4 linked regions of the Homo sapiens genome follow. The protein of the gene in region 4 purifies or fractionates together with the protein of the main gene of each other region. This does not show direct contact. Each region holds a gene or a part of one and is shown on either strand. Other genes may lie near its edges.

Region 1 (7,027 bases), 7.6 Mb from region 4:
AAGGGCCTACCTAGGGGGTGGTGAAGCCTTGCAGAGGTCTATAGGACTGTGGGGGCCATGGACAAAGGAGAAAATACTACCCTACCTGCCAGACTGTCAGGGCAAATCAGACTGCAGAAAGGGTCAGAGCTTGCAGAGAGCTTTCCTTCCAGTTCACACTTAAAGCATATACAGTTGACTCTCAAATAACAAGAGTTTGAACTGCGTGGGTCCACTTATAGGTAGATTTTCTTCCACCTCCACCACCCCTGAGACAGCAAAACCAACCCCTCCTGTCCCTCCTCCTCAGCCTACTCAATGTGAGAAGATGAGGATGAAGCCCTTTACGATGATCTACTTCCACTTAATGAGTAGAAAATATATTTTGTCTTGCTTATGATTTTCTTAACATTTTCTTGTCTCTAGCTTACTTTATTGTAGGAATACAGTATATGATACATACAACACACAAAATATATGTTAGTCGACTGTTTATGTTAAGGCTTGAGTTAAGGCTTGAGGTCAACGATAGGCTATTAGCAGTCAATTTCTGGGAAAATCAAAAGTTATATTAAAAAGTGGATTTTTGACTGCAAGGGGAGGATTCACTGCCCCTAACCCCTGCATTGTTCAATGGTCAACTGTATCTGCAGACACACACATACATACGCATACTCTCACTCTCTCTCTCTCCTTCTTTCTACAAAGAGGATCCATATTTTCCAATATTCCTTCCACCACCTACTCCAAGCAGATCAAAGGAGTGGTCTCCCAAGGAGAGAGACAATAGAAAACTGTACAAAGACAGCAGCAACACGTACTCATTCAACAAACACTCCCTGAGTGCTTGCTATGTGCGTGGATTGTCCTGGGTGCTGCAGATGACACAGGGATGAGCCAGATGTCTTGGCCAACAGAGCTTTTCCACCTCTAGGGGAAGTCTCAGCAGCACCCACTAAGGAGGAAAAGCAAGGAGACTTTGCCCTGCAGGATGGCTGATGAACAAGGGTAATAATAATGCCACAGCACAAAGTTTGTGAGGATTAGAAGAGATGACACATCGGGCCAGGTGCAGTGGCTCATGCCTGTAATCCCAATACTTTGGGAGGCCGAGGCGGGCAGATCACCTGAGGTCAGGAGTTCGAGACCAGCCTGGCCAACATGGTGAAACCCCATCTCTACTAAAACTACAAAATTAGCCGGTCATGATGGCACATGCATGTAGTCCCAGCTACTCGAGAGGCTGAGGCAGGAGAATCGCTTGAACCTGGGAGGTGGAGGTTGCAGTGAACCAAGATCGCGCCATTGCACTCCAGCCTGGGCGACAGAGCAAGACTCTGTCTCAAAAAAACAAAAAAACAAACAAAAAAAGAAGATATGATACATCTAAAGCACTTAGGATGATGCCTGGCACGGGTCGGGACTCAATAAAGAGTGGAGTTAAATCCTGCTGGGTCCTGGTCTTGTCCATGGCTGCATGTCCCAGATGGCCCTGTGGACAACACCCCTCTGATTAACAGGCTCTGTGTGCCTCATCCTTCTGCACCAAGCACCTCAGGCTCTGCTGATACTGGGTGGCCAGATGTCCACTGAACTCGGGTGGGACTGGAAAGGACTCACAACCTCCAGCAGGTGGGTACTGATGCAGTACGCAGGTCCCCTCTCTCCAGCCACTTCCCTGGAGAGACTGCTTGGCTATGGCTCACTACTGTTTCCATCAGGCCACAGTCAGAGGGATTTAACTGGCAAGTCTGATTCCTCACTCCCTTTCCGTGGCTATGCTCCCAGGATACAGCCGCACTCTTTTTCTTTTCTTTTTTTTTTTTTTTTTTTTTTTGAGACGGAGCCTTGTTCTGTCACCCAGGCTGGAGTGCAGTGGCATGATCTCGGCTCACTGCAACCTCTGCCTCCCGGGTTCAGGCGATTCTCCTGCCTCAGCCTCCCGAGTAGCTGGGACTACAGGTGCGCACCACCACGCCTGGCTAATTTTTGTATTTTTAGTAGAGATGGGGTTTCACCATATTGGCCAGGCTGGTCTCGAACTCCTGAACTCATGATCCACCTGCCTCGGCCTCCCAAAGTGCTGGGATTACAGGCATGAGCCACCTCGCCCGGCCCCAGCCGCACTCTTTTTCTCAGCGTCAGGGCTTTGTCAACCTCATTGATCTCCTCTCACTCTAGGACCCTGACAGATGGTCCTGCTGCCAGTTCCCTAGCCAGTGAGGCACTATTTCACCTCCCAGACTCTGCACAAGCTGTTCCCTTTGCCTGCACACCCTTCCCCCGGCTTCACTCTTCCTTTGGGTCTCAGCTTAGGGTTTCGGCTTAGCCATCGCTTCCTCTGGGAAGTCACTCCTTTCTGCTGCTTCCACGTCTCCATCGAGCACTTACCACTCTGGCCGTCAGTACCCGACTCGCGCTTCTAGTCCACACTGGACTGTGAGCTCCAGGAGGGCAGAAATTTGGTCTGACTTGGCCACTAGCGGACTCTACGCCTGATGTGGAGTTCAGTATGTTGGGGTGGGGCCCAGGCACCTGCATTTTTAACAAGCACCTTGATTCTGATGCCTCCTGACTCAGGGTCTAGTGCCACGTCTCGCACACCACTGAGTGGGCGCTCAGTGTTTGTTGAATGACTGCATGATTTCTGCCCATAAAATAAGGTGACTGACGGATGGTACTTTTCCCTAGGGGAAGTAAGGCTGCTTGCTAATTAGAACCCAGATAGCGGAGTAACCCAGGTCCTCTTAGAGGTTCCAGTGGTGGTTGGAATTACCCGGGCCGTGCCCCTACCTCCGGGGGGATGCTGTCCTCCAGTGGTGGTTGGAATTACCCGGGCTGCGCCCCTACCTCCGGGGGGATGCTGTCCTCCGAGTCGGAGCTGTCCTCATAGACGCCGCCGCTGCTGCCACCGCCCTCCAGGTTCATCTGCAGCAGCTGGTCGATGGTGGCGTCCACAGCGCCGCTGTTGGCGCGCAGCACGCATTCGATGATGTCGTAATCCATGTTGGGGAACATGGTCTTGAAGTCGTCCATGGCCTGGTTGAACTCCAGGCGGCGCACCTGGCGGGCAGGCCGGCTGTTGTTGAGCTCCTGGGGGGCGGCCGTGCCTCCCCCGCCCCCGCGTGCCCCGGCGGTGCCACCCCCGCCGCTGCCGCTGCTGCTCCGGCGGAACAGGCTGGTCATTTTGCGGAGCCGCTTGGGGAAAATGTTTCTAGCCGGCCGCAAAGCCCCTTCCCCAGGGTCTTTCCGCCGTCAGCCGCTTACTTGCCCTGCGGTCTCGGGCAGCTCACTCCTGCGCCTCCTCCTCCCCGGGTAGCCAGGCAGCAATGGGCTGCCAAGAGCTCCGGGTTAGGAGAGTACGGGCGCGGGGCCCCAGGCAGCCCTTGGAGAGCGGTCCTCGCGGGGCGGTGGCATGCGGGACCGGGCCGTGCTGGGGCTGGGCGGCCGGTCATCCACACCCCCGGTGCATCCTGGCACCGGTTTCACGGATGGTCCCACCTGAAACCGAAAGAGATGGAGTCAGGGCCGAGGCTAACAAAACATGAGCTCAGGGTGGCGGCCAAGGGCTACTAAGAAATGAGGGCAGGGAACCGCGACCCCTACCACGGGCAAGGGAGGCTTGCTTCTTCCTCATGCTTTCTCCCCGGCTTCAGTAATGAAATCCCCACAGTTCTTTACTAGCACAGGACAGCCACCAGTTAGCAAGGGATTCCTCCGACCCAGGTGCCATCCTAAGTGCTCTATGTGGGCCAACTCATGACAATACTGTAAGGTATGTGCTAGTATGCCCATGTTGCAGATGGGAAAAGTGAGGTATAGACGCTGAGTTAGTGGAGGAGCCAGGATTTGAATCTGGGACATATGGCCCTCAAGTCACTGGTCTCTACCATTACACATACTGCCAAAGACCCCTGAAGACCTGAGTGAGGCAGGAGGGGCTCTTTAAAGATGTCCTGCCTCTCTGATCTCTAGTCCCTGTTCTCATCTTCCCACATCACTGCCCCAACATCGTGGTCCCACCACCAGGGCAGGAATCTTGTGCAGAGCTCCATCGAACCCCGGGGACAGCAGTGATGAGAAGCGGGACCCTCCAGTGTCACCGGGAGCTTCCAGCCTGAGAGAGGAAACAGGGTTTCATCCTTGCAGAGCCTCGGGCTAATAGGGGAGGCCCAGTTCCCACTCTTGGAAAACTCATGTCAGGCCCTAAAACTCAGTCCATTCCCCTGAGAAGCACCAGCCCAAAAGAGAGATGCAAGGCCATTGTCAACCCCTGGAGTTCATTTTCCTTACCCCAATGTCAGGCCGACATGTTTTATTTATATCACAGACACGTTTGTTCTTATGGAACACTCAGTGTCCTTACATATTTTTAAAAATTCTAGAAGTTTTTTCTCAAAGTTGTCTTGAGAAACCATATACATCATAAATTCTGGTTGTTTTTTTTTTTTTTTTTTTGAGACGGAGTCTCGCTCTGTCACCCAGGCTGGAGTGCAGCGGCACGATCTCGGTTCACTGCAAACTCCGCTTCCCGGGTTCACACCATTCTCCTGCCTCAGCCTCCCGAGTAGCTGGGACTACAGGCGCCCGCCACCACACCCGGCTAATTTTTTTTTGTATTTTTAGTAGAGACAGGGTTTCACCATGTTAGCCAGGATGGTCTCGATCTCCTGACCTCGTGATCTGCCCGCCTCGGCCTCCCAAAGTGCTGGGATTACAGGCGTGAGCCACCGTGCCCGGCCATAAATTCTGTTCTTATCCCCACCAAGCCCAGTTCTCCTGCCCCAGCCAATGTGTGTCCCTCAGCCCCCAGGGTCAGCACAGTGTCCTGACAACATGTATAGGTGGAACTGAAAATCAAGCACAATGAGGGACCTTAATCTGCCACAGAAAACCACCCGGCCCACTCAAACCCAGGCATGTAAATCACTGCCAAGGTTGCATTTCTGTTAGCACAGACCACTGGGAATGGAATGCGCCTAAACACCAACTTCTGACAGTGGCAGCTTTATTTTAAGGGACAATTCCATCAAATAATATCCTTGAGTTTGATGAAACAGGTGCAAACTTGTTTTCACTTTTCTAGGACTTGGAGTCACAATCTTAACAGCTGATACAGAAATTTTTTTTTTTTTTTCGGTCTCACTTTGTCGCCCAGGCTGGAGTACAGTGCTGTGATCTTGGTTCACTGCAACCTCTGCCTCCCAGGTTCAAGCAGTTCTCCTGCCTCAGCCTCTCGAGTAGCTGGGACTACAGGTACACGCCACCACGCCTGGCTTTTTTTTTTTTTTTTTTTTTGTATTTTTAATACAGATGGGGTTTTGCCATGTTGGTCAGGCTGTTCTCAAACTCCTGACGTCAGGTGATCTGCCCACCTTGGTCTCCCAAAGTGCTGGGATTACAGGCATGAGCTTCAATGCTTGGCCAAGATGTTTTTGTGAGTACATCAACCCCTGAGAAAATCTGTTCACACTTTAGTGTGTCTACATCTCGATTTTTTCTTTTCTTTTTCTTTTTCTCTTTTTTTTTTTTTTTTTTTTTTGAGACAGAGTCTGGCTGTAGCCCAGGCCGGAGTGCAGTGGCGTGATCTTGGCTCACCGCAACCTCCACCTTCCAGGTTCAAGCAAGTCTCCCATCTCAGCCTCCTGAGTAGCTGGGACTACAGGCACGTGCCACCACGCTTGGTGCTAATTTTTGTATTTTTAATGGAAATGGGGTTTTACCATGTTGGCCAGGCTGGTCTCAACCTCCTGGCCTCAAGTGATCCACCTGCCTCAGCCTCCCAAAGTGCTGGGATTACAGGCGTGAGCCACTGCGCCCGGCATTATTTTTTCTTTGCATATACCACCATAAATGAATTTATTTTACTAAAATGTAATCAAACCATAAATCCTATGCAACTAGTTTTTTCCACATAATAAGATATTGTGGCCATCTTCCCATGTCAGAATACGTAGGGCTACGCCATCATTTTTAGTGCCTGAGTAGCATTCTGTTGACTGAGTGAAGCATGATTTATAATCCAACTCCCTCTACCCCATCTCTTCCCAGATGAGCAAGTCAGAGCCCAGAGACGCCCAAGCCATTTCACAAGAAGACACAGAGGGGTGACTTCAAATGATCAGTCCAAGAGTTTTGCTGTGAGAAGGAACATAGGAAGGTAGCCAAGTATGACATGGCTTCCCATAGCCGGCTTTAGACACCCCAACACCCCTACACCCACATCTCCACGAACCCACACACATCAGAAGAGTATGCAGCTTCGCCTGGGCTCCACCCTGACAGCTGCCTTTGTCCTGGGCTCTGGGGACCTGCCCTCAAGCCTCTAACACAGACCTCAGGGCCAGGAGGCCCCAGAAGCTGATGCCTTGGGCTACTGTCTGCTGTCCTAGTGTCATCACACACAGGGGTCAGTGACTTGTGTTAAGGCCTTCTGGAGTAAAGCCATCATCTCTCTGCCCCTCCAGTAATTTACTAACAGAGATGGAGGGACCCAGGTCTCACTCTGCCAAAGGCAATCCCTCGGAGAAAGATGACCTGGGCCACCCCCAGGGGAGGAAGAAAGAAGATGGCAAGACCGACATTTTCCCCATTAGCAGCCCTCTGGACAGCTCCCTCGGGTTCTGGGCCTCTCTGAGTGTTGAGAAGCTCCAGAAGCCTTGCACTCTTGCCACTTATAGGGAACACGCACCAGTTCAGACAAGGCCTCCGCACTCCCCAGCTGTGGGACCTCAGACAAGTCTCCCATCCTCTCCGTGGCCCTAAGCCCTCATCTGGATGTATCCCTTAGGGGGTTTCAATGGGAATGAAATAAGATAATCCTCAGCACACTGCCTAGAACGTGGCTATGCTGCATTTGAGTTATCATTGCCCCAGGAGGCTGGTAAAGAGCCAGGAGCAGTGGGTAAATTGGCCAAGCTGCCCTCACAGGGGGGATGGGGTAGGGAGATTCTAGGGGGGTCTTCCCCAGCACCTGGATGTCAATCCCTGGAATTCTTTCAGCCCTCTGTAAGGAAATATTGATCCTCATGGCCCCAGGGGAGGCTGG
Region 2 (7,322 bases), on a different chromosome or scaffold from region 4:
AGATTGTCTTGTTGGAATGGCCTGGTGCCAGAACATAAAGTTAATGATCATTTGGTTGGGTATAGTGCTTTTAAAGTCCCCCTACAGTGGCCCACATGTGTCAAGGTAGAAGACATAATGGGCCTCTGTCAATTTTCTAACAATTGGATATTAGAAGGCCTGCGTATTGGTAGGGGATAAATGGAGAAAAGGTGAAGTTATAGTTACTAGGGTAGGACACACTCATTATGTAGCAATGGAAGGAAAGAAACAATCCTGGCATCTGGGGAAGGAACACCACAGGACCCTGGAGATGTAAAGAGAAGGGAAACAATGTTCTCTTTGTCCCTATCCAGCACCAAAGCCTGGCAAACATTCACATGGTCCATCTAGGTCAAGCAGCAACTGTGGCTGGCAATCTGACCTGTGGCTGAGTTTGTCATCTCACTATGAAAACATAAAAACTTTATCTAGCAGGTCAGTATAAAAAAGAAAATAAAAAAAGAAAACAAAAACTCACATGGACACGGCCAGTCTTGAACTATTCCCACGTGCCTGATGACATCAACACCAACTCCCAAACGCAGACCTCCCTCATAGGTGTGCAAACACACAGATCAGCACCACCTTCTATCAATGCGGCTGATACAAATCACATGCTTCTCCTGAGATCCTAAGGGCCTTACTTAGGTTATGCCTTGTCTAGTGATTGAGGCTGCAACTGTTCAGTGACACTGCCCATGTGGTTTAAACCACTGTAATGGTAATCAAATTTGATGGTGATCCAAATAAAAATCTAACAAAAATCCTGGAGTGGCCTGCACTCCTCCAAGTAATATGTTAGTGTAAGGAAGAATGGGTCACAAAATATCTTTCCATTAATCATGGTAGTTAATTTTTTTTTTTTTTTTTTGAGACAGAGTCTGGCTTTGTCGCCTAGGCTGGAATGCAATGGTGCGATCTTAGCTCACTGCAACCTCTGCTTCCCAGGTTCAAGTGATTCTCCCACCTCAGCCTCCCGAGTAGCTGGGATTACAGGCACCCGCCATCATGCCCGGCTAAGTCTTGTATTTTCAGTTGAGACGGAGTTTCACCATGTTGGCCAGGTTGGTCTCGAACTCCTGACCTCAGGTGATCTGCCCGCCTCGGCCTCCCAAACTGCCGGGATTACAGGTGTGAGCCACTGCGCCCAGCCTGGTAATTACTTTCTTAAAAAAATTTTTACAAGGGTAGTGGGCTATTGTAATTACTGGTAATGACACCAAAGATCAGAGATCAATCTGAACCCCTGTGCACAGGTCACAGTGGTTAATAGACTGGTCTTAGACTGCAGCCCAGATGTCTGAAATAAGATTCCTCGGTGCCCCCAGGACTTATTCACAAGTGGCTGAATCCAGGACCCTGGAGGGCATGGTTGAGGTAAATACTGTAAGCTGGCCTTATTCTGCTGCTTAGAGTCCCATTGACAACAACCTTAATTAAATGCTGTAAGGGACAAACTGAAAAGATGTGAGTAGCCAGGGGAGTTGTATATTCATGTGAAAATCTGCTAGAAGCCAAGACCATAGAATCGAGGAGTGAGAGAGGCTGTCAGATTGCTCGTGCCTCTACACATCATTCTGGGTATACCAAGAATGCAAGGCCCTGACTGCATCTCACCTGGGCCATTTCTCATGGTTGTGTTTGCAGCAAGCAACTTTGAGAGAAGAGGCAGTGTCTCCCTCCAGGACAAAGAGGAGGTCTGCGTACTGCCTTCTATAAAACAGCAGATTTTCCAAGCTTGTCGTTCCTTCACTTGGATGCAACCCACTGCCTGTGCAGTCATCCATTTAAACCCATAGCGTCACCCTGTGGGACTTGGATGGCAAGGGAAACTGCTTCTAACATGCATCCTATTTCCTGTAATAAAGTCCTTTGTCTCTAACCCAGGAGTCTCATCTTCTGCCAGCAGTCACGACACAATAACAAGCTAATTTATTAATTTCTAAATAAAGCAACCCTGACAGTCTGTTTTCTTGCCTGCTTTTTGCTTAAAGAATTCCATTTCTGACACCCAGTATCTGGATAGTACAAGCTAAAACCTTTAAGAAAATAAATCTCTTCTCACAAGAAGAGTTCTGCCTCATAAAATCCTTTGGTCACCATACCTGAACACCCAAACTGTCCTTGCCCTATAGGATAAAGGTACACAGTTAGGTATTTTCTCCTCTGTTGATGCCTGAAAATCCTGCAGACATAGGAACTCAGGCCTTAGAAAATTCTGTACCCAAAAATTTGCAATTCTCTTTGGAAAGTTGAAAGCACCTTTAAAAGCCACAATTTGCAAGCCAGGTGATGCACTGTAGCATAACCTGGAAGACATGAGGGCTGCTTCCTCAGATACTAAGAATCCCACTGCCCCACCACCAGAGCAAAACGATCCCCCTCCCAGAGAATGCACCTCGCCAGAGGCCAACCCACCCGATACCTCAAGTTCCCCTCCACCGTGGCCCTCCTCCTATAGATCCCGCCCCCTCCGTACCCTCGGGCCAATCAGAGGGCGGCGTCCCGTCGCGGTTGCCATGGTGCCCGCCGAGTCCCTCCCATCACTCACCAGATGTGCGGCGGCTCGTCCAAGCGGTGGAAGCGGGTGGCGAAGGACAGCAGCGTCACCAAGGCCAGCAGGGCCCACCAGCCGACCGCCTCGAAGCGCCGTGAGCCCCAAGCAGGCCGTTTGGGGCTTCGCGCCACAGCCTCAGCGGCCACGTCCCGGCCTGCGGCCCTAGCAGCCTGGGGGCCACAGCGGCCCCTCCGGGGACGCAGCTCGGACTCTGCCAGGCCTCCGCCCGTGGCCGGCGGCATCTTCCCCCTCCTCTGGGTCGCCCTCCGGCCCGGAGGCACACTTTGTCTGACCAGCCGCCCCGCCAAGGAGTCACAAGAGGGCAGCTCGGGGTACCCCGGGAAATGCAACGCCCTTCACTGCAGCGGAGCGCGGGGCCCCGGGCTCGGGGCGGGGCGGGCAGCGTGGTCGCGGCCCGGGCCGCTAGGAGGCGGCAGGAGGCGCAGAGCATGTCGGGACCGGGAGGGCCGGCCGGCCCGGGGCGGGGGGGACTGGGCAGGAGGGGTCGGGCTCAGGGAACTGCAACTCCCAGCAGCCCCCAGGTACGGGGCGTGGCGGGAGAGCTGGGCGAGCCAGAGGCGACCGGAAGGATCTTTCTAGTCCAGCCCCTCGCTTTACCCGGACGAAAGACACGGGCCTGATTCGTCGAGTCTCACTGAGCCTTAGTCGTCGGCAGGTCCCAGGCGCGAAGTTTCTCGGCCTGGAGGAGGGGGTCGCGCGAAGTGCCAGATGCAGGCGGGGAAGGTCTGTGACGCGCACCCGGGTGGAGGGAAGCTGGTTAGACACCTGGAGACCCTGGGGGGCGGGGTCAGAAGTGAGCTGCACCGCCCGCCCAGGCCGACAACGACTCCCGGCATGCAGTGCTTTGCGCCGGGCACGCTCTGCGCCTGCGTGCTGCGCGCTGCCCGCTGGGGCTCGAAGTTCCGGGAGGGTTGGGCCAGAGGAGGCGGTCCTGGTAGGGAGTGCGTAGCAGGGTGGAGTCGCTGTCCGGTCGCGCTTCACTTCTGCTCCGCCCTCCCTGCTCCCCATAACAGACCCCTCCCTCCACTAAGGCTTCCAAACGTCGCCCCAAGCCTCCCAATTTCTCGCAGCCCTTCATGCTCTTCTCTTGGCCCTAGCAGGAGGTGACCTTCCAGTAATGTTTGTATTTTAAGAGTCCCCGGGCCGGGCGCGGTGGCTCACGCCTGTAATCCCAGCACTTTGGGAGGCCGAGGCGGGCGGATCACAAGGTCAGGAGATAGAGACCATCCTGGCTAACACGATGAAACCCTGTCTCTATTAAAATACAAAAAAATTAGCCAGGCGTGGTAGCGGGCGCCTGTAGTCCCAGCTACTCGGGAGGCTGAGGCAGGAGAATAGCGTGAACCCAGGAGGCGGAGCTTGCAGTGAGCCGAGATCGCGCCACTGCACTCCAGCCTGGGCGAAAGAGCGGGACTCCGGCTCAAAAAAAAAAAAAAAAGGCCCCGAGCGAGGAGAGGCAGTCATGACAATCACCTGGGGAGCTTCACGGCTTTCACATGTTCTTCCCGGGGCCTGCTCCAGAGCCACTCTGTTCATCTCTGGTGGAACGGGCTCGAGAATCTGCATGTTTTTATAAGCGGTCTAGATGGTTCTTAACGTGCCATGAAGTTTGAGAACCACTTTTGTGGCACTAAGGAAGGTGGCACGTTAGATGGGACTTTGCGTCACGTTAATAATGTATAGTCCTCCCTCTTCCAAATGGGATTTTAGGAGTCTTTTTCTCAAATCATGTGTAAGACATGGTTTAAAAATAAAATCTGCTAAAGTAATCAGAATGCATATTTGAATTGGAAACACAGGTCTTCTAGGAGTGCTGATGAGATGGATACTTGGGCTTAAAGTTTAGTTCTACAAGTGCAGAAAGGAACGGGGCATGGTTTACATAGTTATCACTGGTAAGAGAAGGCAGAAATTGCCTAAGAGATTTCAGGTTTCCTGCTTGTGGGTCGTGACGGAGGGCAGCAGCATTTACCATGCTTCTGGTCACTCGTAGTACAGATCCAAAGGTGTAATCCAAAGGCATTTAGCCATTAGGTAAGGCATTTCTTCAGGGATTCTAAGCTAATTAATGTCTGCCACACTCTAGTGGTCACCAGCAGTCCCTGTCCCTTGGCACCAGGAGTCCCTGTAGCCTGGCTAGGTAAGGAAAGGGAGTTGCATCTCCAAATAAGGAAGATCCAGTTGTGGCCACCCAATTCCTCCTCTTCGAAAGACACTTTCTGCCCATCACCTGCTTTCTGTGCCAGGACCATCTTTACTTTCTCCACAAAAGGTACCTTCAGGACAGGCTGGGACTGCTGGGCTTGGGAACCATCTTGGAAGGGCCTAGGTTCCCACTTACACCCTTGCCATCTAGCAGACTGAGTTGGTAGTACAGGGATGGCAATAGCAAGTTCAGAGAGCAGCTTAATATGCTAGGGGTGGCAGAGGGGAGAGGGAGCTTTGGTGAAATGTCTATAGTCAGAGGGGTAGTAAACAGGGCATCTGAGAAGTTCTTTCAAGTTCTCCCCTATCCATAGGGATACACATGTTTTGGTGGGAAGATTCATGAGTGCTAATCACTGGCGAGTCTTTCCTGGGTTCCACTTTGAAATGCTGGCTCCCGAAGAAGTACCAGAGAAATTAACTTTGAGCCCCTTAAACCTTGGAGTAGAGATCGCACACCCAGCTGCCCCCAAGGGCCCAAAGGTAACAAAAATGAGAAAAGTGGGCCAGATATGGGCCATGGCAGACCTGAGAGCGCATACGCTGGTTGATGGGGGCCATTAGTCTGTTCCCATCAATTGCTGCTATTTAGGAACCCAAATCTGTCTCCAGATTTTTTTAAAGAAAAAAAACAAACAGGTGTTGTATATAAAATATCATGATTTTTATTTTTATTTTATTTTATTATTTATTTATTTTGAGATGGAGTCTTGCTCTGTCCCCCAGGCTGGAGGGCAGTGACACGATCTTGGCTCACTGTATCCTCCGCCTCCTGGGTTCAAGCAATTCTCATACCTCAGCCTCCCAAGTAGGTGTGATTACAGATGCACACCACCACACCTGGCTAATTTTTGTTTAGCCATGTTGTTTCGCCATGTTGGCCAGGCTGGTCTCGAACTCCTGACCTCAGGTGATCTGCTGGCCTCAGCCTCCCAAAGTGCTGGGATTACAGGCATGACCCACCATACTAGAATGAAATGTCCTGATTTTTAAACATTGGCAACTACTTGAAACATTTTAAACTACTGTGTTGAGCAAACAGAAATTCTGAGGGCCAGATAGGGCCCCAGTGAGCTGCCAGCTTTTGACCTCACCTTTGGGGTGAGTGAGCATATCTGCCAGCTGTTTTTATGGGGACAGCCGAGAGCCCGGAGGACTGCTGGGAGGTGGGGTTGAAGGAGATATGTACCAAAGCGTCAAAAAATTAGAATTCCTTGTCTTGCTGCATTGCTAGAGGATGCCCTGCCATCATTTTAGGGCAACCTTTGTTTTACAAATGAGGGAGCCGAAGATTTAAAAAGGCAGAGGTTTGTCCAAGGTCATGCAGAGCTGGTTCCTGCACCAGGTCCAGACTCCAGATGCCAGCTCCCAGCCCGCTCCACCACTCAAAATACTGCATCAAAACCAGGCCACGCTCTGTTGGGGGGACACCAAACCTGGCCCCAGCAGGAGCGTAAGAAACTTCCTGCGAGTTGGAAAAAAATGCCTTTTTTTTTTTTTTTTTTTTGAGACGCAGTCTCGCTCTGGAGTGCAGTGGTGCGATCTCGGCCCACTGTGACCTCCACCTCTCAGGTTCAAGCTATTCTCTTACCTCAACCTCCTGAGTAGCTGAGATTACAGGCACCCACTACCACACCTGGCTGATTTTTTTTTGTATTTTCAGTAGAGACAGGGTTTCACCATGTTGGCCAGGCTGGTCTCAAACTCCTCACCTCAAATGATCCACCCACCTTGGCTCCCGAAGTGCTGGGATTACAGGCGTGAGCCACTGTGCCTGGCCAGAAATGCCCTTTCTGACCAGAGTCAAAGTTCCCCCAATGCCTGGGTAGCCCAGCTTCCCCATTGGCTCCTGAAATCCACCCCTTTAGGTTTCCTTTCCCTGCTCAGAAGCTGTGCCAGAGGGGACATTTCCTGGGAGGCTGAGGGTCACCACGATACCATGACAGAGTCTGGCAAGGTATGGAAGGCACTCTCAGGCTAGCTGCCCCTTTGGGGGCCTCTTGGACCTCAGGAGCTCAAACCAGCATAATTTTGGAGCCAAGGGACCTCATGAGCCTCTCAGAGAGCTTGGAGTCTGCCCTGATTTGCACAGATGCAGGCCTGAGAGAGGAGGCCTGGCAGGACAGGAAGAAATGGTTGACTCCTCCCAAGCTGGAGCCCACCCAGCATGGGTTAACACGCGCCTTCATCCTCTCTCTCCTCAGCCCATCCTCTATTCCTATTTCCGAAGCTCCTGCTCATGGAGAGTTCGAATTGGTAAGAGATGTGCCTCCTCCAGGATGAGTGCTGGAGTGGGGTGGACTGGGGCGGATAAGCCCGGGTGCAAAGCTGGCCTGGGATGGAAGGGTTGCTCTGTCAGAGAGGACCTCACCCCCAGCAACCAGCATCCCCCGGCTCCTAGAACCCCCATCCCTGCATGGCATCTCCACCCCGGAAACACAGGGTGAGGGTGGGAGGAAGGGGGTTGTTTTTTCCCTTGGGACTGACACTTCTCCCAACACTGCTCTCCAAAGCCCCT
Region 3 (7,027 bases), on a different chromosome or scaffold from region 4:
GGCATTCCACCAATGAAAGTGTATGAGGGGGCCGGGCGTGGTGGCTCACACCTGCAATCCCAGCACTTTGGGAGGCTGAGCTGGGTGGACCACTTGATGTCAGGAGTTCAAGACCAGCCTGGCCAACATGGTGAAACCCCGTCTCTACTAAAAATACAAAAATTACCAGGATGTGGTGGTGGGCGCCTGTAATCTTATCTACTCGGGAGGCTGAGGCAGGAGAATCACTTGAACCCGGGAAGCGGAGGTTGCAGTGAGCCGAGATCGTACCACTGCACTCCAGCCTGGGCAACAGGGTGGGACTCTGTCCCCCGAAAAAATAAGAAGAAAAAAAAGAAAAAGCCCACTCGGGCTGCAGGTGCTGGAGCTGGGCAGGCAGCAATGGGAGGACACCATCAGGAGACAGTGACCGGGACAGCTAGAGACCTTGTTTGGGGGCAGAATCCACAGGACTGGATATGGGAATGAGAGCAAGGGGCACCTCTAGCTGGGATGTGTGCAAGATGATGCTACTTTTGCAGGAGGGGGGTTCTTGTTTTTATGAGGAAGGGAGAGGGACACAGGTCGGGGCATTGAGGCTCGCCTGGAAACTTCTCAGAGCAGCTACTGAGCAGGCTGCTCACTGAGGGTCTCATGATCTATTCCTCTGACCTTGGACTCAGCACTGAGCTGGTGTTCAAGGCCATGACGGTGACTAGAGTCAGTGAGGGAGGGAAAGAAGGGGGCCCAGGACTGCATCCCAGGGTCTCGCCTGGCCAGGCCAGGAGGTGAGCTCTGCTCTGGAGTCACAGGACCTGCACTCACCTCCTGGGATCCTTTACAATCCACCAGTTATTGACATCTTTGAAGGGGTAACAGGTCACCTGTTGCTGGTGGGAGCTGCCTCGGCCGTTCTCATATCTGTGTGAAGTCAACAAAGAGATGTATCTGGGCCAGGCGCGGTGGCTCAGGCCTGTAATCAGAGCACTTTGGGAGGCTGAGGTAGGATAACTGCTTGAGCCCAGGAGTTTGAGACCAGCCTGGGCAACATAGTGAGACCCTGTGTCTATTTATGAGAAAAAGAAAAGAAAGGGAAAGAAACGTATCTGGAAGTGGGTCATCGATCGGGCCCACACGCCTTTCTCCTAAAGTTTCTGCAAAGGGAAGCAGATTTCAACAAATACAACCTAGCAAGGGGTTTCAGGGAAAATGAAGATACCACAGACAAGGAGCCGAAATCAGATGATTCAGGCAGGCAGTGCTGAGGTCAGCCACAGCCACAGAGCTGGGGCCGACCCTGGGCCCTGCCACACGCCAAGTCCCTCCAGCAACACCCGGGAACCACGAAGCTCACTGGCAATCAGCACCCGGGCTGCTCAACTTCTTTCTGTCCTGCAAACAAACTTCCTCAAAGAAAGGGAAAGTTGCTAAGATAAGCAAATCTACGAGCAAATAAAGCATTTAATTATCTTCAAAGTAAAACCATCACCTTACATCATGGGGTAGGTGTCCTGGTGGGAATGAAGCCAGCAGGGCACAGGTTTCCCAAAGACGTTCCTCAGAGTGACCTGGGACCCAAAGGCCACCTCCAGTGGCTGACCCTGAGTGATCCGAGCTAGTCCTCCCTGAGACAGAAGCAGAAGGTTGATGAGTGAGAGACAGAAAGAAAAATGACCCTAAGCCAGCCTTCCCGATGGCCACTCCTCCCTCTGGGGTGATGTTTAGGCTGGTGGCCATTCTTGTAACAGTGGTAATGATCTCCCATTTAATCACATCACGTTACATTATAGAACCATAATGAGCACTAAGTCTGATCAAATGCTGCCTCTGGGCCAGGCACTCAGTTCAGCCTTCCACGCGCACCCTATTCAGTCCTTACAAGCATCCAATGAGGTAAGAGCAATGATGATGTCTGTCTAAGAGATGAGAAAACCAAGACTAGGGTGAGCCAAACAACTTGCTGAAACACACAGCACTACAGCACTGGCCGTCGGCAGGCTTGGCTGACTTCAGGAACCACAGTCCTGACCACCTCTACTGATACCTTCTACCACTGCTGCGAGGTTCATAGGAATGAAGGTCACAGTTGAGTGTGGTCCTTAAGGCGGGTGAAACTGCCCAGGGTTTGTAAGACTTGACTTTAAAATGCTCCCAGCTGCCAGGCGCGGTGGCTCACGCCTATAATCCCAGCACTTTGAGAGGCCGAGGCAGGCGGATCACTTGAGGTCAGGAGTTCCAGACCAGACTGACCAACATGGTGAAACCCCATCTCTACCAACAAAACAAAAAAATTAGCTGGGTGTGGTTGCAGGTGCTTGTAATACCAGCTACTTGGGAGGCTGAGGTAGGAGAATCGCTTGAAGCCAGGAGGCGGAGTTTGGGTGACAGAGTAAGACTCCATCCCCCCCACCAAAAAAAGAAATATGGATGTGGATTCTTCATGTTTTGATTCAAGTGCTAATGTTCACTTGATGTGTTTGTAAGAAAACTCTGGGTCCACTATCATCTTCCTTCTCCAGTGGCCACGATGCCCACTGCTTACTTACCTCTAAGCTGGCCTGGAAGGCACTGGACATGATTTGGTCGTGGGGCCCAGAGCGGAAGACTAGAATCAAGTGGACGTAGAAGAACAGTAAGTACAGGACGACCGGGATGACCAGCAAAGCCACTGCTCGGGCGAGCAAGTGACAGAACACACAGACCTGCCAGAGATTCAAAGAAAAGTCATGTTCCACTGCGTGGAAAAGCGTACCCACCTCTAGACATTGTGAGCTTAGAAAAAGTTAGTGACAGAAACTCTGGCCTCCCATACAGAGGCACCTGCAGAGGCCAAGAGGCGAGGCTGCCCAGGCCTGCCTGCTTCTAAAACATTGAGGATTGGAGTCTTTTCACCAAGTACCCCCTGTGACATCTGCATCTGCCCCATACAGGCCGGCCTCATGCAGCACTGGACATCAGCACCTACATTGGACAAAGTCTGGTCTCCAAGCAGGTGCCAGGCATGGACAGCTGCAACACCCAGCACGAGCACGTACGTGAACACACCCATGTACTTGATGCTGCAAAGACATGACAGAAATGGAGTTAACATGAGACAGGAAAACATAAGGAGATGGAGGAGGACACTGCCCAAGACCAGAGGCTCAAACTCACCCCACTGCACAGGAACAAGCGACCCCTGTCAGTGTTAGCCAGAACCACCAGCTCAGAGAAAAAGGGCTGGAATAAAAACAAAGCAGATGGAGACAGAAATAGTTCAGACACATTTCCAAAAGGCTAGTGAAGCTCCACATTCTTCAGAGAAATCTTTCTGGGTCGGCTGGCCATGCTGAGCCACAGGGGCAGTAAGAAAGAATTCCCATCTCCCAAAGTATCCATCCCAGCAGAATTTTTCTTTTTGCCCAGAAAATGTTGTCCTGTTAGTTTAAATTATAGAAAAATGAAGATGTATTTATGAAGTCACAAGCCAAGGGCCAACCCCCAAAATATTAGAGGACCAAAAGATATCTAGCACTAGGCGCAGAGGCTCACACCTGTAATCCCCACACTTTGGGAGGCCAAGACGGGTAGATCACCTGAGGTCAGGAGTTTGAGACCAGCCTGGCCAATATGGTGAAACCCCGTCTCCACTAAAAATACTAAAATTAGCCAGACATGGTGCTGTGTGCCTGTAATCTCAGCTACTCGGGAGACTGAGGCTGGAGAATTGCTTGAACCTGGGAAGCGGAGGTTGCAGTGAGCCGAGATTGCGCCATTACACTCCAGCCTGGGTGACAGGGACTCCGTCTCAAAAAAAAAGATATTTAGCAAGCAACTCCTCAAAATGAAAAGGTACTGTCTCACAAAACGAAACAAAAAAAGGTACTGGACCATCTCAGATCAACAAACCACCCAGAATCTCTGTTCTCGTTAACTAGGAAGACACTCCATTTTCCATACCTGTGCTTTTGGCAGTTGAAGAACTTCAGGTAGGACAACACGGCCAATAGATTGAAAAATATTAACACTGATTCCAAAAGCATTAGCCTTGACTGAGTGATGAGAGCATTCTCTGTTTCAAAGAGGAAACACATGTCAATTTTAAGGTAGCAAGGGAAAACGTATGAGGATGAAAAACACTCATGAAAAAAGGCATTACTTCAGAAGCGATACAACTGTGTGGGGCTGTTGTGAATGTTAAAACATTCTATAGACACAAGGCCTCATACAGTCATCACCCAATACACATCTCTTTTGATTTTCTACTGTCTCTTTCTTTTCTTTGAGTCAGGGTCTTGCTCTGTCGCCCAGGCTGGAGTGCAGTGGCACCATCATGGCTCACTGCAGCTTTGACCACCAGGGCTCAAGGGATCCTCCTGCCTCAGGCTCCTGAGTAGCTGGGACTATAGGCGCATGCCACCACACCTGGCTAATTTTATTTATTTATTTTTTTGAGACAGAGTCTTGTTCTGTCACCAGGCTGGAGTGCAGTGGTACAATCTCGGCTCACTGCAACCTCCGCCTCCCGGGTTCAAGCGATTCTCCTGCCTCAGCCTCCTGAGTAGCTGGGACAAAAGGTGGGTGCCACCATGCCCAGCTAATTTTTGTATTTTTAGTAGAGATGGGGTTTCACCATGTTGGCCCGGATGGTCTCGATCTCTTGACCTTGTGATCCACCCGCCTCAGCCTCCCAAAGTGCTGGGATTACAGGTGTGAGCCACCGTGCCCGGCTTATTTATTTTTTTTGAGATGGAGTCTTGCTCTGTTGCCCAGGCTGGAGTGCAGTGGCGCAGTCTTGGCTCACTGCCACCTCCACCTCCCAGGTTCAAGCAATTCTCCTGCCTCAGCCTCCCAAGTAGCTGGGATTACAGGCACCTGCCACCACACCCAGCTAATTTTTTGTATTTTTCGTTATTTTTAGACAGGGTTTCACCATGTTGGCCAGGCTGGTCTCAAACTCCTGACCTCGTGATCTGCCCGCCTCAGCCTTCCAAAGTGCTGGGATTATAGGTGTGAGCCACTGCGCCCAGCCTAATCTAACTTTTCATCTGCTTTAATTTCATCTGTTCATAAACGTGAGCTGGAAGACCCTCTCTGAAGAGGATCCACTGACTCACGAGTCCATCTCAATTGGCCAAGGCCTGGGAGGTGGTGGAACAAGGGGAAGTTATCATTTGGTCACAAGATTGGTTGGAGATGGAGGTGCCCACGTGTGCATGGACTTTGCAGCAGCATCTGGGCAGTTTTCTACTGCCATACCCCGACTGCTGATAAGAGTCTGATCCCACAATTCAGCAATCCCATAACCACGGGGTCAGCCTGGGAGCGGGTGACTTGCAGCGTCAAATTTGGATGAACCAGATGCACTTTCTGGTGCAGCTCGCCCACCAAGCCCATGTGATCTTCCGGGCCAAAGGGTCAGTTCTTCCCTGCATGACAGCAAGAGCAGGCAGGGGCGCAGGTCTTACCGATAAGCATCAACAGAGCAGCTCCCATGGCGGCACAATGAGAAAAGTGGAGCTCCAACACTATCTGGTAGGCCATGGGGACCGACAAGGCCCCCGCGAGTGCTGGCAGCAGGCGCAGGGACCACACAGGCACGTTGCTACTGTATTCTGGAAAAGCAACCACACTGCAGAGCTGACTACACTGTGCACACACCATCTCTGTGTACTGCAGCTATGCTTTCACATAGCGCCGTCATGTTCACAGACTCTAAAATGCACGTTTACAAAACTGGGGACCCCATCAGCAGCAGAGTGCATAAACTATGGGTGAAGGCTTTGAAATTAGCTTTGCATAGTCATGGAACCCGATCTCATGAAGCATAGACAGGACTAAGGATTCTAAAATTTACCGCCTTACTTATACATATTTACCCTCCCTGTTTTCTTTTTTCTTTTTTTTTTTTTCTCTGAGACGGAGTCTTGCTCTGTCCCCCAGGCCGGAGTGCAGTGGCGCCATCTCATCTCACTGCAAGCTCCGCCTCCCGGGTTCACGCCCTTCTCCTGCCTCAGCCTCCCGAGTTGCTGGGACTACAGGCGCCCGCCACCACGCCCGGCTAATTTTTGTATTTTTAGTAGAGACGGGGTTTCACCATGTTAGCCATAATGGTCTCGATCTCCTGACCTCATGATCCACCCGTCTCAGCCTCCCAAAGTGCCAGGATTACAGGCGTGAGCCAGCGCGCCCGGCCTACCCTCCCTATTTTCAAAAACATTGTGGCAATGGACAAAATTCACATGTACAACCGATCATCACAATCAGACGCTCTGTGATACGTGTACCAACGACAAGGGCTGAAATAATGACTGCAACTGAACAGTAAGATTTTAACCAGACTTTCCAGAAGTCTTTCATTTGTATCCAACCAATTTATTATTTTCTGGACTCAGATTAATAAGGCACAGTTTCTGTGGGACTAGGTATGAAAGGAAAAAAAAAGCCACAGTTGTTAATCCTTACAAAAGTCACAATCTCTTCATTCTAACCTGCGCACATTAAAAGGGAAATGAAAATTATCTTTTACCTGCTCCAATTCTGTTCCACAAAAAATTGCCATCGAATCCTCCTAAATAACCTGAAACAGAAGATTAATCAGTAACTATCCCATTCAGCAAATATTTCTAGAGTACTGTGGCAAGCAATAAACAAGATGCATCAATAATAAGACCTGGTTTCTGCCTGTAAGAAATGCACTGATAAGTTTTAAATGTATTTGAGGTCCTGAAGGGTAGGGGCTACTCTCCTGATGACTCCTACCTCCCAAGGCCAGCACCATGTGGCCAAATGGCGGCCCACTGTCATCCAAGAAGAAGATTTGTTTCATGTAAAAAGAGATGTACTGCCCATAATATACTTCGTCAAAACTAGAAAAAAAAACAACAACCCATATTATATTCAATTAGAATCTTAACTGTAAACAAAAACTGTGAGGATAAATGTGTATGTGTTTCCAAATGACTTTGAGTGAGTGATCAGCAAAGGCTGGATCTTTTGCCCCAATTGTTTCCCATCCCCAAATATTAAGATGCATACAGCATCACCCACCCACAGAGACATGGGGAAT
Region 4 (7,996 bases):
CTCATCCCTTCTGACCACCCTTCCAACCTGGCTTCCACCGTGACACCCATGGCTCAGGGCACTAGCGACTTTCCTTATCCCACCTTCAGTCACTGCAGACACTGTGGGCAGGAGGACTCTTCCTATAATGCAAATCTCATCACCAAAGAATCTTGCTGGAAGCCCCCTTCGGTGGCTCCCTGGGGTAGAGACCTCCCGAGTGAGCAGCTGCACTCCCTCCCCTTTCGCTTCCCCTAGTTCTTTCTCTTCCTCTCACACACACCCGCTGGGAGTTCCCTGAACATACCTGGCTGTTTTACACCTGTCCAAGCCTCCATTCATCCTTCAGATCCCTGCCTAAGGGATTCCATGCTCTGCAAAGCTGCCAGGACCCCGCCTCCCAAATCAGCTTCCCCCTCTTCTGTACCAGGTCTGCAGGGCACCCAGGGCATCTTACAGAATTTCCCTCCATTGATAGCAATTGTGTGTCAAAGCCACACTGACTTGGAACACTCTTCTAGGTGGCTGCAAGGCTGGCTCCAGCTCCTCCCTCTCCAGTTACCTTATTCAAAATTACAACCACCCTTTTCCCTTAGTGTGCTTAACTTTTCTCCACACCTCTTGTCAACATCTAACATACTATATATTTACTTTATCTTGTTAATTGTCCTTCAGTTGTGTAAAAGGCAAACTCCGCGAGGGCAGGGATTTTTGCTGCATCATTGTTGAAAACCCAGTAGTCAAAATATTTGCAGAATGAATGAACGTGCATTCATCAATTACCTAGTTTCATTTCATCCTGGCTGCTCCCAGACTGTGGGGGAGGGATGTAGGTGCCAGAACATAGGAAATGGGTGGTGGGGAAGGGCATCTCTCACCCCACCCTAGCCTCCTGGGACAAACAACCAAGGCTAAAAAATAGGAAGCCAGCTTTGGCAAAACCACCGTTATCTTTATCTTTATACCTTTATAAAATATTTCAATTGCAAATCACAACAGTAAAGATAAGAATACCAGTGATAGCCAATAAGAGTTGGGGTAATTCCCCTTTTCCACGCTCAGTCCCAGGCTGAGTACCATCTCACAGGCTTTGTCCCCTTGTGGGGACAGGAACAGGAAGGAACCCCTGCAGGTTGGCCCAGAAAGGGTGAGTCTGTGAATCCAAATCACACAGCACACAGGAATGACTATAGAATTGGAGACAGGCTGGGTGCGGTGCCTCATCCCTGTAATCCTAAATACCTTGGGAGGCTGAGGTGGGTGGATTGCTTGAGGCCGGGAGTTTAAGACCAACCTGGCCAACATAGCGAGACCCTGTCTCTATTCTTTTTTCTTTTTTCTTTTTTTTTCTTTTTGGAGATGGAGTCTAGCTCTGTTGCCCAGGCTGGAGTGCAGTGGTGCGATCTCGGCTCACTGCAACCTCCGCCTCCCAGGTTCAAGTGATACTCCTGCCTCAGCCTCCCAAGTAGCTGGGATTACAGGCACGTGCCACCATGCCTGGCTAATTTTTGTATTGTTAGTAGAGATGGGGTTGTTGGTCAGGCTGGTCTGAAACTCCTGACCTCACGATCTGCCTGCCTCGGCCTCTCAAAGTGCTGGGATTACAGGCGTGAGCCACTGCGCCTGGCCTCTATTCTTTAAATTAAAAATATATATATACAGAGAGGGAACTTGGAGACAAATCGAGGGGTCCATCCAGGCACTCAACAGCACCCCTTCCCCCTCAGACCCCACTCTGGCCCTTGTCCTTTTCCTGGACCCCAGCTAATAAGTAATGGATAATTAACAGGTTTAGTAAATTAATCTCAAGTTCCGGTTTGGGAGGGGGAGGAGCTCTTCTCCCAGATTGTCTCCCCACATTTTAACCAGGGGGTAGTCTTGTCTGGGGTGGTTCAGAGGCTGAGTTTTATGGAGCGTCAGGGTGGTCTTGGGCTGGGAGTAAGTAAATCTCAGCTTACTTAACTCCAGAATTGAAGGTATTAACAGCACCTCGCCCCTGGGGTTGGTGGGAGGGGTAAACCAGAGGATGCCCAGCCCAGCATTGACACAAACTGACCGCCCAGTGATTTAGAAGGAACACCTTGCTCACTAACCCGGGTCCACGGAAGGGTTTTGGCAGAGCCTCTCTGAAAGCTCAGCCCAGATGTGTGAAGGTGCCCTGTTCTAAAATCCTAACTATGGAAGACCCTGACTTCCCTCCGGTTCTTAAATGGAAATAAGACACAAATGCATGTTCTAGACCCGTCTCTGTTCCCAGGATAAACACCCATCCCAGGACCGGACAGCTTTCCCCCATCACCTGTAGAGTTTACTTGGGAGGAACAGAAGGGCGGAGGGAACACTCGAACCCTACACCTCCCTCTCAAAATCACAGATTTCAGAGGTCACCCCAGCCTTGGTCAGGCAGCCAGGTCAAATCCCACCACAGGCTGGGATTACTTACCCCTAGAAGGGGACAAAAGAGCCTTCTCTCCCCTAGGGAACAAGCAGAGACACAGTCCCAAAGAGGGTGGGGACATCCCAGGGTCCCCCAGCACTGGAGGAACTGAGCTGGGGCTAAGTGCTGGCCCAGGTGTCCAAAGCTCAGGCGGGAAGGAGCTGGAAGGATAAGCTGAGGCTAATAAGGGGTCCAAAGTCCCTATTCACAGAGACGTGCTAGGTGTCAGATAAGGTGGTGGGTGGTGGCCACTTCCCACCACAGGATCCCCCTCAGAGGTGGGAGAACCCAGCCTCTCCCAGAGCCTCCTCCGCTGCCCCCACCTCCACCTCCACAGCAAAGAGAGAAAGGAAGTAGCTAACTGTGTGTGGTCAGGAGGAAATCCTGATTCTGGAAGGTGGCGACCAGGCTCCAGAAGCAGGCTCCTGACCTACAAGGGTAGGGCCCAAAAGTTCAACAACCTTACCTCCCAGTCTCACCTTTTGGGGGCCAGCCAGCAGGCTGAACAGCAAGGTGGGCGCGAGGCCGGGGACCCAAGCTTGGGACATCCTGGCTTGGGGGCCACTGAGCTTTCCTGTGTAGAGAAGGCGGGGCTGCGACCTCTCCCACTTCTCTCCACCTATGGGGCCCCGCCTCGGGATGGGGGCGGAGCTGCACCGGGAGAGGCGGACTCGGGGCAGGGAGGGGCTGGGAGGAGGAAGGGAGGAAGGGAGGCGCAGAGGTCTGGGTTGGGTTTTGGGATTTGGGAGGTAGAAGAGATTAACGGATTTTTAAAAAAGCGGTCCCGGGCGCGGTGGCTCACGCCTGTAATACCAGCACTTTGGGAGGATCACTTCAGGTCAGGAGTTCGAGACCAGCTTGGCCTACATGGTGAGACCCCCCGTCTCCACTAGAAATACAAAATTTAGCCGGGCGTGGTGGCGGGTGCCTGTAATCCCAACTACTCAGGAGCCTGAGGCAGGAGAATCGCTTGAACCCGGGAAGCAGAGGTTGCAGTGAGCCGAGATCGTGCCAGTGCACTCCAGCCTGGGCGACGGAGTGAGACTCCATCTCTAAATAAATAAATAAATAAATAAATAACCTAAATTTAAAAAGAGGTGGGATCAACTCCACACCGCTGAGCTGGGCCTTCCTAACTCCCAACTCCTCCACTCCTAAGTGCCCCAGACTCCAGGGAGGGGTGCCGGGACCGGCGGGAGTGGGAAGGGGACGTGGAAGCCCCTTCTTATCTGGACCTCTGGGTCTGGTGAGAAGTCAAATGGGGGCAGAGGTTGAGGGAGGGGAAGGCGAAGGTTCTAGGGTAGATTTTGAGGGGTTATGGTTGGGGGATATCACCCCATTGTGTTTTGACCAAAAAGGGAGGGACAGAGCAGCCTGGCTGATTTCAGAGTGCCCTGAGATTTCCAGGTCGAGGAAGGAAGACCAGGAGCACAACGTGGGTACCTTCGTGTCCCCTCCCCTCTTGAAATCCTACAGGAGGTGTTGGTGCATTTTCTCCCATTGACAAAACGGGAACTCAAGGCCCCAGGGTTTAGACTGCCCCGGGGTCCGCAGCTGGGGCTGGTCCTCTGCCAGGCCCGCCGGGGCGCGGGCGAGCAGGCCCATCCAGATTCCTGGAAAGACCCCGCGGAGGCCGCCCCAGTGCGGAGGGGCCTGATTCTGAGCCCCCTGCGGCCGCCGCCTCCAGCACTCCAGGCGCGGAGCTTCCGGGAGCGGCCGGCAGGTGGCAGCGTCGCCCAGCGCGGGTGCCCCCGGGAGCCGGGAGGGGCGCGGCCGGGGCTTGTGGGCTGGGGGCGCTGGGCGAGGGCGAGGCAGGAGCAGTGCAGCCAGGACCGCGGGAGGGGGAGAGGGGGTGATGGAGCGTGGGGCGCTGCTCCCTGGCCCGGCCAAGGGGGACCCTGAGAGGCTCAACGTCATGTCCTTGGGCGCCTCCTGCTGTGTCGCCAATCTGTCTTGACCCCTGAAAAACACCCCCGACGTCGTGGGCGTTTCTTCTCTTTCCTTGCTCTCTGCCTCTCACCCTTCTCCCTCATCTCTCCCAGTCATGTTCTCTGTCTTATATTTAACCCCTCTGTGTCTCTCCCCGTTTCTCCCAGCCTCTGTTTTTCTGTTTCGGTTTCTTCCCATCTGTCCGCACCCAGTTTCTCTCGAGTTCCCAGCCTTTCCCTCTGTTCTCCCGTCTGTTTCTCCTCTCTCTGTTCACCTCTGTCTGCCTCGGCGGAGGCGTCTGTTTTTCTCGGTTTCTCTGGTCCCTTCTCCTTGTCCCTGGTTTGGTCCTGCACCCCCAGTCTCTCGGTCTGTTTCTTATGCTGTCTCCCTGCTCTCTCTCTCCCTTTCCCTGTCTCTATTTCCCATTACCTCCTAGCCCTTTTTGCCCCTTAAGAAGATAATCTTCTAGTCTCCTGATCCGAGGGGTATTGGGATCTGGCCCCTCTGTATTTGAAGTGACTGTGAGCTTGGAGAAGGGAAGGGGCCGCCGTCTCCCCTCCTCCCCTGCAGGTGGACCTTGGCAGGGGGACCTCGTCCTGAGAGTGCTGGAGCCTCCACCTCTTGAGTCGTTGCCAACTTGGGCTGCCAGGGTTCTTCTTGTCCCCACCCAGGCCCCACTGCAACAGCAAGGCCTGGGGTCTCTACCCCACACTCCCTGCTATCCTGCCCAGGCTGGGAGCCCTACAGAGGTGTGGCCCTTACGGGAGAGGAAAATGGGAAAATGGTTGAGCTTAGAGGAGGAAGATACCCTGCGGGGTGAAATGAGGGTGCTGAGAAGGGCATGTGGGAACTCAAGGGACAGATGTGGGGGGTCAGCAGGAGTGGGGGTGAGGGAACTAGGCGGGCACCAGTGCCCTGAAGAGGGGCAGGAGGAGGGGGAGGAGGCTGGCATAGCTGCTCTCTGGGTCTCTGGCATCAACCTGACCCAGATCTAGGGTTGCCGGACAAAAGACAGGAGGCCCAGGTAAATCCAAATTTCAGATAAACGATGAATAATTTCATTTTAGTATAATTATGTCCCATGCAATATATATATATTTTTTGAGAACCAAGACTGGAATGGAGTGGTGTGAGCTCACTGCAACCTCCACCTCCCAGATTCAAGCAATTCTCATGCTTCAGCCTCCCAAGTAGCTGGGATTACAGGCATGTGCCACTATGTCCAGCTAATTTTTTGTATTTTTAGTAGAGACAGGGTTTTACCTTGTTGGCCAGGCTGGTCTCCAACTCCTGGCCTCAAGTGATATGCCCACCTTGGCCTCCCAAAGTGTTGGGATTACAGGCGTGAGCTACTACACCTGGGCCCATGCAATATTTGAGACATACTTATGCTAAAATTTACTTTTCTATCTGAAATTCACATTTAATGGGATGTTCTGTGTTTTTCTTTGTTAAAACTGGCAACCAGGCCAGGCACAGTGGCTCACGCTTATAACCCCAGCACTTGGAGAGGCCGAGGTAGGAAGATCACTTGAGCCCAGGAGTTTGAGACCAGCCTGGGCAACATAGCAAGACCCTGTCTCTGCAAACAAAGAAAACAAAAGCAATTAAGCCGGTGTGGTGGCATGTACCTGTAGTCCCAGTTACTCTGGAGGTTGAGGTAGGAGGATCACTTGAGCCTAGGAGTTCAAGGCTGCAGTGAGCTGAGATCACACCACTACACTCCAGCCTGGGTGACAGAGCACCACCCTCGCTCTAAAAAGAAAAACAAAACAAAACAAAATCTGGCAATGCTATCCACATCGCTACAATGTCCTAGGAACAAACTCCACCCCCACCCCACATCTTCCAATGAAGAAGTGAGGTCCTTAGCACTTGACTCACCAGGCAGAGTCTGAAGGGCTCTTGAGCCCCTCGGCTGGGCCCCCAGTTCCATGACACCAAACTGCCCTACGTTCCTTCCTGCAGATGGGGACAAGATGAGGAGCCTGGAAGTGGGTGGTCCCAGGCCAGGCCAAGAACACCAGGGCCTGTTAGCATTCATCATGGCCCCAGGGCCCTCGGATTTTTGGTGGGTGAGGTCAGAAGGGGGTGGGAGCACCATGGACCCCCCTAGACTGAGCAGAGAAGGGCTGTTCTAGAGGAAGGAGGGTCCTGGACAAGGCCAGCATCTTCTGTTTGGCACGTCACCTAGCACCAGGAGGGCAGCGTGTGCAGGTGCTCAGGCATACACGAGCACAGAAACCCAGAGGCCTCATGTAGTCAGCGGCCCCCTAGATTCAACACCAAATTCCATCTGGGGTTTCCCAAGAGCAGCCACTTCGAAATGTCTTCATAAACGCTCGCTGGGCCCCCAGTGCATTCACTAAAGAATGAGCTGATTGTGCATCCTGCCGGGGCCCAGCTGGAAGGAGGGGCCTCCGAGGCCAGCCGGCCCACTTACGCCCTTCTCAGAGGAGGCAACCAGGGCCTGGAGAGCGGGAAGGCCAGGTCGCACAGGACATGAGGGGCTGAGTCAGGATCAGAACCATGCAGCGCTCAAGACGCCACACCCAGCACAGGTGGCACTCACCTCGGGCCTGGGGAGCCCTGCTCCACTGCTCTGGATGGAGGATCACTCAGGGTGGGTGGCCTCGCCTAGCCTGGCTCAGCCCAGCCCAGGGGGCCAGGCTTGGGTGAAGGGGAAGAGCCAGGGTGAATTCTGTTTTACTTGGCAGTCCCCCCCACCCCCATACTTTGGTGGACACTAATATCTGTAATGGCTGATGGCACTAGGCTGGGATCTCTTTTCAAAGCCAGCAGAATGCTCTGCTCTAGCCCGGCTCTGCCTGTAGGGGCAGTATTGTGTCGTGTTAGTCAGTGTGCCACTGAATATGTTGTGCTGTGTGACCTTAGACGAGAAATGGAACTTCTCTGGGCCTCTCTCAACAGGAAGGAGAGGGAGGAGTTGGATAACAGTACCTCCCTCATCATATAGGCCATGATGAGGATGAAACAGGCCGCTCAGAGTCTGGCATACAGTAATGGCAAATAAATGCTAGCTGTCATTCCTGGCAGAGACAAGGGGCCCATACTTCCTTCTCTGCATTTCACATGGAGGCAGAGTGGGGTGCCAAGGAGTGCAGGGTCTCGCTGCTTTTGGACTGCTCACCTCCCTGGATGGGCTGCAGCATCCAACCCCAGTTTCCCCAGGAAGCTTTGCTCACTAAACCCCTCTGCTGTCCACTGGGCCCCACTTAAGGCCAGTCAGGCCTGAGAAGGTGGGGCTGGTGACAGATCCCAGAGGATGTCCGTCCAGGTGCCGACCACTCCTGAACGTGGTCTGGGACTGGAGATGTGATTCCCTCCACTCCCAGTTTGTTCCCCCTTTCTACTCCCGCACAGCCCACTGAGCGCTGCCTGGGTCTACTTCACAGAGGAGGCCCGCCTCTCCACATGGGCTGAGAGCTCATGGAGACTGGAGGCTGTGCCTGTCACAGGTGTCCTCTCCCTTTATCCCCACTGCCATCGGCACCCCGTGCAGCCTGGCTCCTCAGGACTCTCGTAGCCATATTCAACAAGGCCTCTAGCTTGGTCACCTCATTGCCAAGGAGGGACAGGCCATGTTGGGCATGTCGCTCTCTTGTTCCCTAATCGGAGGCTCCCTGCTGC

Evidence for each region.
Region 1: the proteins of TMEM92 (region 4) and CUEDC1 purify together in Homo sapiens (affinity purification with mass spectrometry; 3 studies listed by BioGRID and IntAct, with this or other methods). This does not show direct contact.
Region 2: the proteins of TMEM92 (region 4) and POMT2 purify together in Homo sapiens (affinity purification with mass spectrometry; 3 studies listed by BioGRID and IntAct, with this or other methods). This does not show direct contact.
Region 3: the proteins of TMEM92 (region 4) and POMT1 purify together in Homo sapiens (affinity purification with mass spectrometry; 3 studies listed by BioGRID and IntAct, with this or other methods). This does not show direct contact.

The regions. Positions count from the first base shown.
Region 1 is NC_000017.11:57,882,400-57,889,426, forward strand, and holds part of CUEDC1 (CUE domain-containing protein 1), read right to left. Parts: intron 3,481-7,027; 5' UTR 3,166-3,480; coding exon 2,830-3,165; exon of another isoform or gene 2,773-2,829; intron 1-2,772.
Region 2 is NC_000014.9:77,317,862-77,325,183, forward strand, and holds the start of POMT2 (protein O-mannosyl-transferase 2), read right to left. Parts: upstream 3,023-7,322; 5' UTR 2,821-3,022; coding exon 2,573-2,820; intron 1-2,572. Other genes in the region: GSTZ1 (maleylacetoacetate isomerase), read left to right, coding at 6,744-6,761, 7,009-7,060. UniProt on the Homo sapiens protein: Transfers mannosyl residues to the hydroxyl group of serine or threonine residues. Coexpression of both POMT1 and POMT2 is necessary for enzyme activity, expression of either POMT1 or POMT2 alone is insufficient.
Region 3 is NC_000009.12:131,505,914-131,512,940, reverse strand, and holds part of POMT1 (protein O-mannosyl-transferase 1), read right to left. Parts: intron 6,828-7,027; coding exon 6,721-6,827; intron 6,539-6,720; coding exon 6,488-6,538; intron 5,591-6,487; coding exon of another isoform or gene 5,574-5,590; coding exon 5,427-5,573; intron 4,031-5,426; coding exon 3,919-4,030; intron 3,199-3,918; coding exon 3,133-3,198; intron 3,039-3,132; coding exon 2,945-3,038; coding exon of another isoform or gene 2,800-2,944; intron 2,682-2,799; coding exon 2,526-2,681; intron 1,605-2,525; coding exon 1,474-1,604; coding exon of another isoform or gene 1,469-1,473; intron 901-1,468; coding exon 805-900; intron 1-804. UniProt on the Homo sapiens protein: Transfers mannosyl residues to the hydroxyl group of serine or threonine residues. Coexpression of both POMT1 and POMT2 is necessary for enzyme activity, expression of either POMT1 or POMT2 alone is insufficient.
Region 4 is NC_000017.11:50,269,470-50,277,465, reverse strand, and holds the start of TMEM92 (transmembrane protein 92 precursor), read right to left. Parts: upstream 3,001-7,996; 5' UTR 2,965-3,000; coding exon 2,896-2,964; intron 1-2,895.